2 separate regions of the Homo sapiens genome follow, and region 1 is linked to region 2. Evidence: fine-mapped expression QTL. A gene starts in region 2. The other region holds a variant in brackets. All regions are shown on one strand. Distances are between the middles of the regions.

Evidence for each region.
Region 1: its variant is fine-mapped to the expression of CPT1A in monocytes (CEDAR, PIP 0.95). The same link has a PIP of 0.9 or more in NK cells, monocytes after LPS and monocytes after interferon gamma.

What each region holds. Positions count from the first base shown.
Region 1 is chr11:68,750,602-68,758,923 of GRCh38, reverse strand. TESMIN (testis expressed metallothionein like protein) reads left to right here and starts at 7,404. Exons shown (of 10, transcript NM_004923.3): 1 at 7,404-7,504; 2 at 8,225-8,322. The coding sequence starts at 8,264. CPT1A (carnitine palmitoyltransferase 1A) reads left to right here. Exons shown (of 19, transcript NM_001876.4): 19 at 1,194-4,041. The coding sequence ends at 1,280. RefSeq lists silencers at 7,172-7,291, 7,302-7,591 and an enhancer at 7,292-8,277. The variant A/G (reference allele first, on the strand shown) is at 4,176.
Region 2 is chr11:68,836,809-68,845,130 of GRCh38, reverse strand. It overlaps CPT1A (carnitine palmitoyltransferase 1A), which reads left to right and starts at 3,215. Exons shown (of 19, transcript NM_001876.4): 1 at 3,215-3,356. RefSeq lists enhancers at 1,184-1,393, 1,434-1,573, 2,296-2,821, 5,030-5,189 and silencers at 2,967-3,326, 3,347-3,396, 3,607-3,686, 3,947-4,046, 4,097-4,376 and 1 more.

The DNA of each region.
Region 1 (8,322 bases), 86 kb after region 2:
TATCTCAGCCAGGCACGGTGGCTCACACCTATAATCTCAGCACTTTGGGAGGCTGAGGCTGGCCAATCACTTGAGGTGAGGAGTTTGAAACCATCCTGGCCAACATGGTGAAACCCCGCCTCTACTAAAAATACAAAACTTAGCTGGTGTGGTGGCACACGCCTGTAATCCCAGCTACTCAGGAGGCTGAGGTAGGAGAATCGCTTGAACCCGGGAGGTGGAGGTTGTAGTGAGCCAGGATCATGCCACTGCACTCCAGCCTGGGTGATGGAGTGAGACTCCGTCTCAGAAAAAAAAAAAAAAAAAAGGAAATGTATCTAATTTGGTTTAACATGTTTACCTCTGTTGGCAGCAATGGTTTTGAAGCTTAACGTTGGAGTGCTGCTGTAACTTTCAGACTCTTTAGCACTTGGAAGATGAACTAAAAATAATGGGTACACACTAAGAAATCTGCATACAGAGCAGGGGACCCCCGGCTTCCTCTGTGGATGGAACAAGGGACCTCCTCCCTAGCATGGCACATTGCCCTTATTTATATTCTGCTTTCCTTGTCGTACATAGCCTGGCAACCCATGCCACTGTCGCTGTTAACAGAGGAAGTTGGGGTTTATTTGTTCACTGCGGTTTTCTTTTGTTGTTTGTTTGTTTGTTTGTTTTAGACAGGGTCTCACTCTGCCACCCAGGCTAGAGTGCAGTGGTGTGATCTCGGCTCACTGCAGCTTCAGCCTCCTGGGCTCAGGGGATCCTCCTACTTCAGCCTCCTGAGTAGCTGGGACTATAGGGGAGTGCCACCACACCTGGCTGATTTTTGTATTTTTTGTAGAAATGTGGTTTCACCATGTTTCCCAGGCTGGTCTTGAACTCCTGGGCTCAAGCGATTCCAAAGTGCTGGGATTACAGGCATGAGCCACCATGCTCAGGATGGTCATTGTGTTTTCCGTGGGATAAACGCATTGGCATTAGGGGAAGGCTTAGATCGACAACACACCCGCACAAACACATCAGCTGTCATCTCTTTACCCTCAGCATTTCTCTGGAATGTCTAAGTTAAGCTTTAAGACGTTGGTCAGATCTTAGAGAACTGGCAGAAAGGAATTTCAATGAAACATTGGGTCAGATTGCAAATGAAAAAGCTTGAAATGTGGGGATGGCCACGTTTTAATAGGTTTTTGGTTTTTGTTTTTACATGAAAGGATTCTCATCGCTTTGGAAGGCACCTGAAAGAAGCAATGACTGACATCATCACTTTGTTTGGTCTCAGTTCTAATTCCAAAAAGTAATTCCACTGGAGCTGCTGGGAAGGAAAACGAGCTCTTCTGATGCAAACCAAATGAAAAATAGGCATTAATCCTGACCTTAGCTCGGGATGAAACACTGCTCTTAAAAAAACTCAGTTTTCCTTCCAGAAAATGTGGGTGTTTTTTTTTCCTAGAACAGTATCTCTCCCCTGTGAAGCATAACCCCACTACTTCCAGACTTGCCCTCCCTTGGGGGACATCTGATAAAGTCTCCCCTGATGTCTCCGCATCGGCTTGGATTTATTAAGGGATGCAAATCTTGTTGAGTTAATGAAGGAATTAGTAGGGTTGTGGCTTCACACACAGTGGAATGGAAATGGTGTGCTTTCTCAGTGGCAACCGAAGGCCTAGTGCTTAAGGGCATTTAGCATCATCCAAGCAGGGTAAACTTTTGTTTTGTTAAAAGAAAAATGTGTTATTCAAGTTGGTGTCCCCAGTTGTAGCTAACACATCTGGAATGCACTAACCAAAATGCTGTGCTTTGGAGACCTGCTTTTGTCACCGTGGGTAACCGTTCCCGTCTGGTCCAGTAGCCTGTGTTTGCCTCTCCACATTTGAAGCAAGCAGGATGCAAGGTCTTCAGTTTTACTGACCTTGTATGTCTTCAAGTCTTCACAACCCAGTGCCTTAAAAATGAAAGGCCCTAAATGTAAGGGAGATGGAGAGAAAGATTTATTTTGTAGAGTCTTTGGGTGGAATTGTGGGTATACTGTTCCCTTCACAATTGACTGAGTATGGATAACCGTACATAAGCATTTGCTACACCCCACCAGCCCCCTCCCCCTCAGAAACACCAGTTCCTTCCCAAGGGCAGCTGTGCCAGACTCCCCTCCCGGGACTGCCTTCTTGTCATCATAAGCAACAAAAGAAATAACAGGCACATGTCATAAAAGGGGAGCAAGGGCCGTGATGGTCAGATAATTCACTCAAGAATAAAACATGACACGTGCCTCAGGAGGATCTCTTTCCCAAAGTGACAGCAAGGAGGGCAGGGCATCGGCCACCAAGCGGGGACTAGCAAGTGAGGAAGGGGAGGGCAGCCCACCGTGGTGAGGAGAGAGTGGCTCCACGACCCCAAGGGATGGCCTTCTCCTCCCACCCGGTGAGGGGAAAGACTCACCAGAGGGTGATGGAGACAGTATGCCGGCTCACCTTGGTGACCAGCCAAGATGTCTCAAGTGACAGTGCTAGGTGTTCACCCAGCCTGTCCTTCAGATAGGAGTGCCTTCACGAAAGCGTCTCATGGACCACAAAGCAATTATGCACTGAGTCATCTTCAGTATTTAATGCAAAAATGAAGCATCATGGAATGAAATTCCCACTGTCTGTCATGACAAGCTTAGCTGTCCATTGTTTTAAATTGTGTATTTATTTTTTTGACCACTTGGTTCTAGTTGGGCCTGACTCCTTCAGAGTGCTGCACCCCGATAGTACAACAGCGATGGCTGAACTGTTGGAGTCGATGGAAGGTGCTTGCCGGAGAACACGTGCCTTTTTTTTTTTTTTTTTTTTTGAGATGGAGTTTCACTCTTGTTGCCCAGGCTGGAGTGCAGTGGTGCAATCTCGGCTCACTGCAGCATCTGCCTTGCAGGTTCAAGCGATTCTCCTGTCTCAGCCTCCCAAGTAGCTGGGATTACACGCCCAACACCATGCCCTGCTAATTTTTGTATTTTTAGTAGAGACGGGGTTTCATCATATTGGTCAGGCTGGTCTCGAACTCCTGACCTCAGGTGATCCACCTGCCTCAGCCTCCCAAAGTGCTGGGATTACAGGCATGAGCCACCATGCGCGGCCCACATGCATGTTTTATGTATGTATACTTCATGATGTAAAAATCCCACCTTTATGGGCCAAAGATTTTTTTTCTCCTGAAAGCAAGAAAAAATGAAAACAAAAGACAAAAAAAAAAAAAAAAGCGTCCAGGCGCGGTGGCTCATGCGTGTAATCCCAGCACTTTGGGAGGCCAAGGCGGGCGGATCACGAGGTCAGGAGATGGAGACCATCCTGGCTAACACGGTGAAACCCCGTCTCTACTAAAAATTCAAAAAATGAGCCGGGCGTGGTGGCGGGCGCCTGTAGTCCCAGCTACTCAGGAGGCTGAGGCAGGAGAATGGCGTGAACCCGGGAGGCGGAGCTTGCAGTGAGCCGAGATCGCTCCACTGCACTCCAGCCTGGGCGACAGAGCGAGACTCCGTCTAAAAAAAAAAGCAAAAACAAACCAACAACAAAAGCCCCTGACTGTCCGTCAAGCAGGCAGCGGGGATGTAGCTCTCTCTGCCCTGGGCAAGAATAGCACTTCCCGTTAAAAGCCAGCAGCCGGCGTCAGTCCCTATCAGAGCCAGCTAGATCATGCACTGTTGACCACTGAGCAATCTGTGTTACACTAGAGTTCACAGGGCATTTTGAGTGTAGACGTGAGTGCTTAAACATATTTGGGTTTCTCTCTCAGGTTTTAAATGTTTCAAATGTAATTGTTGCTCATCAGTGCAGTTATCAATGCAATTTTATATTCCTTGAGGGGAGAAAGAGGGGTCTTATTGTACATGTCCAAGGGGGGTGATAAGAGTATTATCTGTTTAATTTAATTGGAACAAACCATTGTCTTAACGCAGCCATGGTTTGAATTTGTTATCTTGGGCTGACCGGTGCATGTAAATACAGTATGCTCTTTGGATGTAAATCTTAGAAATGCAGTGTGAATGTAGGTTATCATTAATAAAACATTAACCCCAGTCTACTACAAGATTTGTTTCTGTCTCTTTTGTTATATTAAGGGGATTATAAGTCAAGGACCAAGTTCAGATACTTGAGACAAAGTGGAAAGTCTCAGCATATGGAAACAAGGCCTTGGAGGAGACCATGGACATCACCAAGTTC[A/G]TGTGCTGGGCTGGAAAGAAAAGCCTGTTGATTTTCACTTGCTGTGCATTTATTCATCCATTCCATTGCCTCAATGCTGAGAACAGTGCCTGACACATAAAAGATGCTCAATAAATATGTTAAAAGTAATGCATGAATTCCATTTTTCTGTTTTTCTTGAGCACCTGTATTAGGCCATTCTCACATTGCTGTAAAGAAATAGCTGAGACTGGGTAATTTATAAGAGGTTTAATTGGCTCTCAGTTCTGCAGGCTATACAGGAAGCATGGAGGCATCTGCTTCTGGGGAGGCCTCAAACAGCTTTTTACTCATGGTGGAAGGCAAAGGGGGAGCAGGCATTCTACATGGTGAAAGGAGACAGAGAGAGAAAGAGAGGAGGTGCTCTCTTACACATTTGCAAACAACCAGATCTGAGAGAGAGAGAGGAGGTGCTCTCTTACACACTTGCGAACAACCAGATCTCACAGGAACTCACGCACTCTATGGTGAGGACAGTAGCAAGAGGGATGGTGCTGTTCATGAGAAATGCACGCCCATGATCCAGTCACTTCCCATCAGGCCCCACCTCCAACATTAGGGATTACCACTGAACCTGAGATTTGGGTGGGGACACACATCCAAACCATATCAGCGCCTGTTCTAGGCACTGGGGAGACAGCAGTGACCCCACCAGGTTCTGGCTGTCTCATTAGTCCATTTTTACATTGCTGTAAAGAACTTCTTGAGACTGGGTAAGTATAAAGGAAAGACAGTCAATTGACTCACAGTTCAGCATGGCTGGGGAGGCCTCAGGAAACTTATAATCATGGCAGAAGGTGAAGGGGAAGCAAGAAACCTGTTACATGGCAGCAGAGGAGAGAGAGTGAGGGGGAATTGCCGAACACTTTTAAGCCATCAGATCTTGTGAGAACTCACTTCTTATTGCAAGAACAGCGTAGGGGAACCGCCTCCTTGATCCAATCACCTCCCACCAGGCCCCTCCCTTGACACAGAGGGATTACAATTCAAGATGAGATTTGGGTGGGGACACAGAGCCAAACCATATCACAGAGGAAAAAGAGAACAAGCCAACCAGTTGAAGGATTTTAAGTGTTCTGAGGCAACTAAGAGGATCATTGGGAGGGGGTGGTAGCTGGCAGGGAGGTTGACCCACTTAGAGTGGGTTGAGCTGAGACCTGAGAGACTCGACGGAGCCAGCCCGGCCAGTGCAGCAGGGCAGCAAGCATCTAGGAGCAGCAGGTGCAGAGCCTCCAGGCTTGATTGCAACCCGTGGGTGACCCCCACAGGTGGCTGTGTATGCCTGGCATGATGCTACTCAGTAGACGTCTGATTCTGATTAGTAAACGAATGAACGGTGCAACCTTGTGGGTTACTCTCTCGCTTGGGCCACTCAAGCTATGCATAATTCTTGGGCTCTTCGATTTATTATTTTTATTATTTTTTCTGCTTCTGTGAGTGTTTTTTGTTGTTGTTGTTTTTGTTTGTTTGATTTTTGAGATGGAGTTTCAATCTTTTTGCCCAGGCTAAAGTACAATGGTGCAATCTCAGCTCACTGCAACCTCCGCCTCCCAGGTTCAAGCAATTCTCCTGCCTCAGCCTCACAAATAGCTGGGATTGCAGGTGTGCACCACCATGCCTAGCTAATTTTGTATTTTTAGTAGAGACAGGGTTTCACCATGTTAGTCAGGCTGGTCTTGAACTCCTGACTTTAAGTGATCTGACCACCTTGGCCTCCCAGAGTGCTGGGATTACAGGCATGAGCCACCACGCCCAGCCCCAGGCAAAATTTTCTTGATTTTTGAATGTTAAATGTACAACTAAATAGTACACGGTGTTGCTGTGCCTTGGGTACTACCCTTTAAAAATTTAGAAAAGTATTTAATTTTTAAAAGTGAGATTAGAAAGCTGATGTTTTACATTCTTTATTTTTACCAAAACAGTACCTGAGTAGACAGTACCTGAGGCTGTCTCCCCAGCACCCACTCCCACCAGTCCCTCTACACCCTTTGCAGTTTTCGCCATCACTTGAATTAAACTTTCACCTCCTCTTGATTAAACAGTGATATCTATTGACTCCTTAAAGATGAAATAGCTCATTCCCCACCCAAAATTTGAGACTTTCATTGTATTTGTGAGTTTTTTTTTTTTTTTCTGAGAGGGAGCCTTTCTCTGTTGGTCAGGCTGGAGTACAGTGACACAATCTCAGCTCACTGCAACCCCCATCTCCCAGGTTCAAGCCTCAGCCTTCTATGTAGCTGGGACTACAGGCGTGCGCCACTACGCCCAGCTAGTTTTTGTATTTTTTAGTAGAGACGGAGTTTCACTATATGTTGGCCAGGCTGGTCTCGAACTCCTGACCTCAGGTGATCCACCCGCCTCGGCCTCCCAAAGTGCTGGGATTACAGACGTGAGCCACCACGCCCAGCCGTATTTGTTACTTCTATTTCGGGACCAACTCCATCAGTTGCACCTGTAAGCTGCGTCACCAAGGACCGGGAGTGGGTGCAAGGCTGGGAACGTGCGGTGCAAGCCCCTGCCCTCTGTCCACCCGCAGCGTCCCAGGCCGGGATCTGTCTTGAGAGCTCGAGTGTAGAAAAATGTTTTATTTTATTTTATTTATTTTTTTGAGACGGAGTCTAGCTCTGTGGCACAGGCTGGAGTGCAGTGGCGGGATCTCGGCTCACTGCAACCTCCACCTCCCGGGCTCAAGCGATTCTCCTGCCTCAGCCTTCCAAGTAGCTGGGATTACAGGCGCGTGCCACCACGGCCAGCTAATTTTTGTATTTTTAGTAGAGACGGGGTTTCACCATGTTGCCCAGGCTGGTTTTGAACTCCTGACCTCAAGTAATCCGCCTGCCTCGGCCTCCCAAAGTGCTGGGACTACAGGCGTGAGCAACCACGCCTGGCCAGAAAAATATAACTGAAGCCCAAGGTCAGAAGCCAAGCTAGGCAGTCCCACTTAGCGCTGCCCGAGTTGATGGGGACCTCAGTTTCCCCACCTGAGCCTGGATCGGCTGAACCTGGGAGTGCCTCCCCTGACCCGCTCTGGCAACAGCGGCAGTCCAGGCCCCGCCCCTCGCGACTCTGTCTCCTCCCGCCCCAGACCACGCCCACCACACCTCCCTGGCCCCGCCTTTACCTCCCCGCCCCGACCTCGACTCCGCCCCACGCCCAGGCCCCGCCCACTGCCCGGGCGCCTCTTCCCCTCCCCCCAGGTTCCTGTCCCTCACCCTTCCCCCTTCTCCAACCGCCAACGGCCGCCTGCGCCTGAGGCCCGGCCCACGCCCCATCCCGCTCGCTCCACGCTGCGGCAGCCCCGGCGGCCCCAGGTGCGTCCCTCCGAGGAGGAATGACGGGGCGGTCCCCGGGCTGGGCCTCGGCTCTGCAGGCGGGGATGGGGGCTGCCGGGCCGGGTCGGGCCCCTGCGGGTGGGCGGAGGGCGGCGGGCCGTGGGCGAGGCCGCCCCTCACCTGGTCGCACCTCACCTGGCCCCCCCTCCCCTGGCTGCTCCTCACCTGACCCCCTCCTCGGCCGCCCCTCACCTGGCCCCCTCCCCTGGGCGCCCCTCACCTGACCCCCACCCCGGCCGGCCCCTCTCCTGGCCGCCCCTTACCTGGTCGCCCCTCCCCTGACTCCCTCCCCTGGTCGCTCCTCACCTGGCCGCCCCTCACCTGGCCCCCTCCCCTGGCCGCCCCTCCCCTGGTCGCCCCTCCCGTGACCCCCTCCCCGGCCGCCCCTCCCCTGGTCGCCGCTCACCTGACCGCCTCCCCTGGTCGCTCCTCACCTGGCCGCCCCTCACCTGGCCGCCCCTCACCTAATCGCCCCTCATCTGGTCGCCCCTCCCCTGACCCCCTCACCTGGTCGCCCTTCCCCGGGCCCCTCACCTGGCCCTCCCTCACCAGGCCGCCCCCTCCCCTAGCCGCCCCTCACCTGGTCCCCTCCCCTGGCCGCCCCTCCCTTGGCTGCCCCTCCCTTGGCTGTCCCCTTTCCTGGCCGCCCCTCCCCTCGTCCTCTCCTCTGGCTGCCTCTCACCTGGCCGCGTGTTGCAGGTGCGCGGCCCCCGCCATCCCGCCCCGCCGCCCTGCGCCATGGAGGAGGGCCCTCTGCCGGGCGGGCTGCCCAGCCCCGAGGATGCGATGGTGACGGA
Region 2 (8,322 bases):
CTCTACTAAAAATACAAAAATTACCGAGCATGGTGATGCACGTCTGTAATCTCAGCTACTCGGGAGGCTGAGGTATGAGAATCGCTTGAGCCCTGGAGGCAGAGGTTGCAGTGAGGTGAGATTGCGCCACTGCACTCCAACCTGGGGGACAGAGCAAGACTCCATGTCAAAAAAAAAAAAAGGAATTTGTGGACATAACGGTAGGATTTCTGAATTTGCTTTAAAATAAACAGTAGGACTGGGCAGGAGTGGGTAGGAACACAGGCATACACCTTGGCCCTAGCTCCATAATGGTTGATGTTGAGTTTTGGTTGTATAGGCCTTTATTATACTATTCTGGTTAATTTTTTTCAAAGGTTTGGATTTTTCAAAATATTAGCCAGGCATGGCGGGACTTGCCTGTGGTCCCAGCTACTCAGGAAGCTGGGGTAGGAGGATTGCTTGAGCCTAGGATGTCAACACTGCAGTGAGCTGTCATTTTGCTACTGCCCTGCAGCATGGGCAACAGAGAGAGATCCTGTTTCAAAAATGAATGAATGAATGAACGAATGAATAAAAAGGTTTGGATTTTTCCATAAAAAAGTATTTTTTGAGTAAAAAGAGAAATCTTAGCGGTAAATAAAAACATTACCTGCATTAAAAAGAAAATTTTTCTTGTAGCTATGGTAGGCAATTGCTACAGTATTCAAACTGGGGCAGAATCTGTAAAAAACAAGGCTTGAGAAAGATTACTCTAGTTTCAGAGGCAGACATGGAGACGTTTTTGGCCCCAGGGAACTGAGGCTCAGGCCCGGAGCTCCCCGGGAGGCCTCGTTCTCTGCTTCTTTATTAATAGACTCAGCTACGCAGCCGCGGGAGCCGCAGACCCGGGCAGGAGAGCTGCAGCGTGGTCGGCGGGAGGGGAATAAGGCCTCCCCAGTGCGGCTGCAGTTGCAGGCCGGCGCGGGCTCGTTGCAGCTGCCGAGAGCCCGGCCACCATGGCACAGGTGAGCGTGGCGCCTCGGCGTCCCCACAGACTGGGTCCCTGTCCCTGCCCCGCCCGGCCTGCAGGTGGCACCTAGGCGGCGCGCAGGGAAGGGCGCACGGTCAAGGCCGAAGAGCCCTGGGAACAGACAGGGCGCGGGGCCAATCCCAGCTGGGCGCGCACCGGGGCGCTGAGCGAGGGAGGAAATGACCTTGGAGCGGGGACCTGTCGGTGGCTGAGGTTCCAGGGAAAGGAGGGAAGGGCATTTGCGGTGAGAATGACAGTCCAGCTTCCGTAGTGCAAACCGCGAAGGCCCACGTGCAAGGAGAGCCTCACGCGCGAGAGCCGCCCGGGCTCGTGGGGTGCAGCCGCGCGTCAGGAACGTGTGCCCTGGCCCAGCCCACTGGCCTCTTGGGGCGGTGAAATCTGCGGGGGTCGAGTGCCTGGGCTCACTGGTGGTCCAGACAAGCGCAAGCAGGGGGACAAACCCCCAACTTCTAACCTCAAAGAAATGCAAATTAAAAGGAGAGATGAGAGATTCTTCCCTCCCCCACCCCTCCTTTTAGGATTGGCAAAGATTAAAATAATCCATAATCGGAGACAGGGCCCCGCTTGCACGCGCGGGTGGCAGTGGAAGTTGGTAAACTTTTCGGCATGGTAGCTTGGCCTGTGTCACCAAAATGTCGCACGTGCCTGGTTGCTTCCCCTCCAGGGATCTATCCTACAGGATAATCAGGAGCTCCAGGAGGTACATCGACGGCCAACGCAGCTTTTATTTATACCTGCAATGGTGGGGTGGGGGGCGGGGAGGAGGCCCTAATTGTCCAATGGGGGCCGCGTAAATGGATCACAGCATAGTCAAAGGAAATCTTATGCAGCCTTGGGAAGGCCGGTGGTCATCTCCGTCCCCCAGCAGAGACCTGTCTACGACGTAAGCCAAGTGAAAACAAAACAGCCTTACAGACAGCTTGCATCCTAGCCTTCCTTTAAAACAGCGAGCCCGGGAACCGCAGGGAGAGTTAACTGCAGCGGTGGTGGGGGGCGGGATCAAAGGAGAACTTTCATTTTCTCTTCTAAATTCTTCTGCGGTAACAACTAAATGATACAGAAAGAAGGATGGTTGCAAACATGGATTTTTTCATAACTAGAAGAAGTGGTCGAACTTAAAAAGAGCAGGGTTCATAAAAGAGGTTTAAAAGAGTCTTTGTTCATAACATCGGTGCATTTATGGAGCACCTGCTGTATGCAGAGCCGCCAGCTCGCGCCTGGAAGCATTGCGGGCAAAGATAGGGGAGGGGTGGCTCCCGGTCAGGAAGACCCCCTTGGCCCTCCTGTTACGCTTGGGGCCCCTCTCCCTCCCCCTCAACCCCCTGGGTCCCCTGCAGCTGCGCTCGCCCTAGACTCCTGGGACCGGTGGATGTTCAGTTCCCGCTCCCGGCCCCTCTCCCGAGCTCCAGCACAAGGGTCTCTCGGTCGCTCTGCCCTGGCCTCCAGCTACTCCTCTCCCAGCACCTATTATGTTCTTGACGCTGGAAGAATTATTTTAGTAAATCTCACCAAAGCCCCCCAAGTGAGGCATTTTTATCCTAGCTAGATGAGGAGGAGCCACGCTGCCTCTGGATCGCGATGACTGCCACTCGTGGTATAAGGTCTGATTTGGGGCATGGGCTGTGGAATCAGATCTGGACCCAATGTCCGATCTATCACTTCCCCGCGCTTTTTTTTTTAGAGACGGGGTCTCGCTACGTTGCCCAGGCTGGCCTCGAACTCCTGGCTTCAAGCGACTTCCCGCCTCCCGAGTAGCTGGGATTACAGGCGCGCCCCACCACTCCCTGTGGATCGGTTGCTTCTCAGCTCGGTGATGTGGGGTAACTTATTTCCTGGCCCGCGACCCTTGTCTGCATGAAAGAGTCAGGGGTGAATACCATCAGGGGGTGCCTGGAGCATTACACGGGGCAATGCCGATAGATAAGTCGCGAGGATCAGCCAGGCACGGAGCTAAGCGATTTTATGCGCACGGCCTCCACGAGATGGCTCGTTTTACGGATGAGGAAACTGAGGCTCGGAGGGTGAGGAATCTCGTCCTAGACCCCATTCCGGCAGAGGTCGAGGACGCGAGCACCCGCTCGAGCCTCAGTTTCCCTCCCCTCCTAGCCCCGCGGACGCCCCGCCCCGCCGAGGCCCCGGGCCCGCCCTCCGCGCGCCGGGAGTCACCCGCCTGCAGGCGCCGCAGCCGGACCCGCCTCAGCCAATCCGCTGCTGCCGGCGTCGGGTGCGCTCGGCCTCGCCCGCGGCCCTCCTTCCCCGGCTCCCGCTCGCCGCTCGTTCACTCCACCGCCGCCGCCGCCGCCGCCGCTGCCGCTGCCGCTGCCGCACCTCCGTAGCTGACTCGGTGAGGCCCGGTCGCCCGCGGTGGGGAGGGTGGCGGGGCGGCCCTGCGGGCTGCGGGGGCCGGGGACGGGCGGGGCGCGGGGCTGCCGGGAACCGGACCGGGTGGGGGACGCCGCCGGAACCGGGGCGCCGAGAGGAACCCCGGTATTCCCCCCGGACGGCGGGGTTGTGGAGATCCTGAACCCAGAAAGAGGCCGGGGCTCCCCATGTTCCCCAGGGGATTGGGTCTGAGGGTCCACCGGGGGTCGGTCCATCCGCAGGCGGGTCCCGTGCGGCCGCGGGAGGGATGCTCGGCCCTCCGGACTTGGCTGGACGCCTCCGGCCCGGGGCCAGCGGGGCCACCGGCTCCCTTGTCTCCCACTCCTTAATCCGCCCTGGACTGGATTGAGTCTGAGGGTCTGCCCAGGGGTCGGTCAGCCTGCGGGTGGCCGCGGGAGGGATGCTGGACGCTCTGGATGCTTTCCAGGATGCCTTCGCCCGGGGCCAGTAGGGCCTCCGGCTCCTGTCCCTGCCCATCCCACCCTGGCTCTGGAGAGGATTGGGTCTGGGGGTCCGCCCGTGGGTTGGTCACCTACGGGCAGGTGCAGTGCGGCTGAGGGAGGGGTGCTCGGCCCTCGGGATTCGGCAGGGCGCCGCTGACCCCATCCCAGCGTCCGTCTCCCCGGTCCCCCTCCCCATGCCCGCCCTCGCGGTGCAGCCGTCGGGACACGCCCTTGGCGCAGGGACTCCAGGCGCGGTCCGAGCGCTGCCGTGAGCAGGATGAGGGTGCCGGGCCCAGTGCCTGCTTGGGAGCGCCCCGCAGCCTCTCCCGTGCAGCGCTGGGTCAAGGGCGGGTGGGCGCGGAGCATGTGCCCAAGGTCGTGCCGGGCTGGGAGCGGCGGGGCCGCGGGAGGGTGGGGGTGTCACGTGGCCGTGCCCTGGCGAACTTGGCCTGCGAGCCCGACGGTGCGGTCAGGGCCACGCGGGGCAGCCCCTTCTCGGAGCCACCGCCGCGGCCAGCCAACAGCCGGCTTCTTTCGGTTTGTCAGGAGAGGCCATGGGTCAGCGTCTTTATAATGTAAATCCGCCCTTGGCTTTCGTTAAAGCCGCAGAACTCAAAGATGAGGGCCGATCTTACTTTAAAAAAAGAAAACAACTCAGAGAGTTAAAAATCCCAACTACCTACCAGGTTAAATACATAACAAAGTTAATATTCCCAACTCGGCACAGGCTTTCGGTTCCTCTCGGCTCCGTGTGTTATAAAATATTTAAGGGCAGATTTTAGTAGGAAGCTGGTAACTTTGTAAGTTACCGAATAAAATGAAAATCGGTTTTACCTTTTGCAACGTTGTATTTTGTTACACCATTTTCTTCCACAGGTGTCCGGTTTCTGGTCATTCCAGATATGCAAGCATGTTTATTTCATTCTAAGCCACAAACCAAGTGAATAAAAAATGGCTGAGCACTGGTCTTCTATTTATGCCAGGAAGCACCCCCACCCCCGGGCCTTTCCAAATTCTTTAAGGCGACTCTGACCGAGTGAACGTAGCAATAAATTGAGGACATAAGTGTCGCTGAGAATGCACACCGCTGAGGCCAGCGAACATCCAGCTGTCAGTTGGTCTGGGGACTATCAGCATTCGCAGCTGGTTCTTTGGATTGGTTTTGCCTCAATACCAAGAGCCTGTGGACTGCTTTTCGCATGTAAATTACTGGTTTCCTTCCTGTGAAGCATTGCTAGCCTAGACCTTGCACTTGAACCCTATCTTAACAGTTGGAATCAAACAATAAAAAGGGCCAGGTTTGGGAGTGCACACACTTTGTTTCAAAGTGGCAGAAGTTGGCATCATGCACAGGCCAAAATAACGTTTCGAGTTGGTACTAAAAACAAGCCGCCTACCCTGGAGGGGAAGAGAATTAAACTGGGTCCCTTCCGATACTGCTGCGGCTGCTGCGTTTGGCCCCGGCCCCGGACCAGTGGTCACCGAGCGGTCAAGTTGGGCCTCCGGGGAGCCCTGGAACGAGGGCCTGCCCTTACCCAACCCTGGCCCCGAGTGCTCATTCATAAAAACACCGTCAGTTTTCACTGAGGCTTCACAGTGAGCCCCTTTTAGACGCGCCCTGGGCTCTTGAGCGCGGTGCCTGCGTTTCTGGCTCGTTGGATGCAGCATCTGTCATCAGAAGCACTGAGCACCGAGCTGTCCCCACAGCTGGGCACCGCAGGGCTCGACCTTCCCACGGAGAGGTGCGTTGCATTTCTCCCGCTGTCGCTGGGGTGGCCACAGGGACGCGCGCCAACTCGCTCCGGAAGGTCTCTGTGGGCACGGCGGGTGGAACAGGATCCGAGCGCCTGGGACGCGCCAGCCTGGGGGCGGGGCTGCTGCTGACCTTTCCCCTACTTTTCTCAGCCGTCACGTGACGCCGCCCGGGGCTTGGGGGAAGGGGCGGGGCGCGAAGCCGCAGTTGCTGGCGGTGCCCTTCCGAGGACGCTTTCCAAGCGAGCAATTAAACTTGCTGCCCGAAATCTAAAGGCGCAGGGGCGGTGGCAGCGGCGGCGGGAGGCGGAAACCGGAGCCTGCGCGGGCCAAGGGCTGCTTCTGCACTTTGATCGTTTGCATTTTTTCCTTTGTTGGAAAAAATGTTTAGTCACTCTGCATGGTTATTATTGGCAGGCCAGAATTCTGTTGCTGGTGGAAGCCTGAACTTGAATTCCGGAAGAATTGGTGCTTTAAGAATTAAAATGGCTGTTCGAGATTGTTTGTTTAAAGTGTGTTGGAGAGAATCTCTCGAGAATCTCTCCAACACACTTTAAAGAGGCCTCACTTGTCTTCTGCCAGTCTTGAGCTTTTCTTGTGAAGACTTTTGTTTTGTTTTGTTTTTACAAATAAGCGATATAAGCATACGATGCAAAGTTAAAGAGGCACAGATGGGCCCGGCCCCGTGGCTCACGCCTGTAATCTCAATGCTTTGGGAGGCCAAGGTGGGAGGATTGCTTTGAGGCCAGGAATTCGAGACCAACCTGGGCAACAGAGCCAGACCCCTGTCTCTACAAACAATTAGTAGGGCCTGGTGGAGTGCATCTGTGGTCCCAGCTACTCAGGAGGCTGAGGTGGGAGGATGGCTTCAGCCCAGGAGGTGGAGACTGCAGTGAGCTATGATTGCACCACTGCGCTCCAGCCTCGGTGACAGCCAGACCCTGTCTCTGTTTTTTTTTTTTTTTTTTTAAAAAGGTGCAGATACAGAGTAGAGTCCTTCTCACTTGGTTCCCCTCTCCAGATGCCACCACTATTACCAGTTTCTTTGACGACATGTACAGGATATGTTTTTTAAACAAATTGATTGCTTAACACAAGTAAGGACTTTTTTCTGCTTGCTAGCTTCAAATATTTGTTACCTTGTGTAAATTTCAACTTTTACCCCATCCAAATGTCAGGTGAAGGTTGGATCTCCAGCAGGCCCTGGGCTGAGGCCAGCTACCCTATTTGGGTATCTTGACGGCCTCAGAAGTGTCTGCCTTTGCCTTTTTTTTGGTGAGGATTGTTCTTCGGTCCAGGAACGTCTTTGGAAGTTAACAGTGAAAGAAATCATGCTGCTGAGTGAGGCGTGCCCTCTCCAGGGTGTGCAGGAGGGTCACCGTCACCTTGGAGGGTTGGGCAGTAGGGTGGGTACCGCTCTGCTTCCTGAGGGATATAGGTTAGGCATTGGACACCAAGTCCTTTATGTTAAGAAAGGAAGGCTTCATACTCCTGATGCGGGTGGTTTGTGGTACCCAGCCCAGGAGCCGGAGAGCCAGCCTGCATTCTTCCTGTTCCCTAAGCCCCCACATGCAGCCGGGGCTAAGTGCTGCTACTTCTTCCTAACTCACCCTTACATTCACCTTCCTCATTATTTCAGTGGCCCAGAGCAGACATTCAGATATGTGTTGAAGGAATGACAGAACATTTGAGACATCCTTTCTTTTTTTTTCTTTAGTGACAAGGTCTTGCTCTGTTGTCCAGGCTGGAGTGCCGTGGCGCAATCATAGTGCACTCTTGGCCTCAAGCGATCCTCCCACCTCAGCCTCCCAAAGCACTGGGATTACAGGCATAAGCCCCCTCGCCCTGCCCGAAGCACCCTTTTTCCACTCTGGATTGCCATAACCGCCTGACGAGGGGCACTGTTATTCCTGTTTGTGTTATGGGAAGTTCCTGTGAGGGAGGCAGGGAGCAGAGGAGCATTTGGGTCCCCCCTCAATGCACCTTCCTTCATGCTGCTACTGTGGCTGAGGACATCTGGACCCGAGACCACGTCCCTATTCTCTCCCCACAGCAAGCTGCTAGCTCTCTGCAGTGATGTCTGCTTCGCCCACCAGCCCTGGCTCACTCAGGGGGTCCTGTGGTCATCAGGTCACATTGAGTCACCACAGACAGCTTTCCTAACGCTGTGTTCTGATGCCCTGGAGAAACTGTCAGCTAAGCGCAGTGGCTCACGCCTGTAATCCCAGCACTTCTGGAGGCCACGATGGGCGGAACATGAGGTCAGGAGATCGAGACCAGCCTGGCCAACACAGTGAAACCTCGTCTTTACTAAAATACAAAAAGGTAGCTGGGCATGGTGATGCACGCCTGTAATCCCAGCTACTCGGGAGGCTGAGGCAGGGGAATCGCTTGAACCCAGGAGTTGGAGGTTGCAGTGAGCTGAGATCACACCACTGCACTCCAGCCTGGTTGACAGAGCAAGACTCCGTCTCAAAAAAGAAAAGAAAAGAGAAGAGAAGAGACAAAACTGTCATATGCTATCACTGAAATTTGACTTTTTATAAAATGATTCTTCATTTATAAAAGCATTTATCCCTGATTTGCCAACTGTCATCTCCTCTGGTGCCCTGAAAAAGATTTAATACATGGAGGTTTGCTTTCCTTTTTCTTTATTTCCTTCATTCCTTCCTTCCTTCCTTCCTTCCTTCCCTTTCTTTTCTTGGAGATTTTGTTTCATTTTTCTTTCTTTCT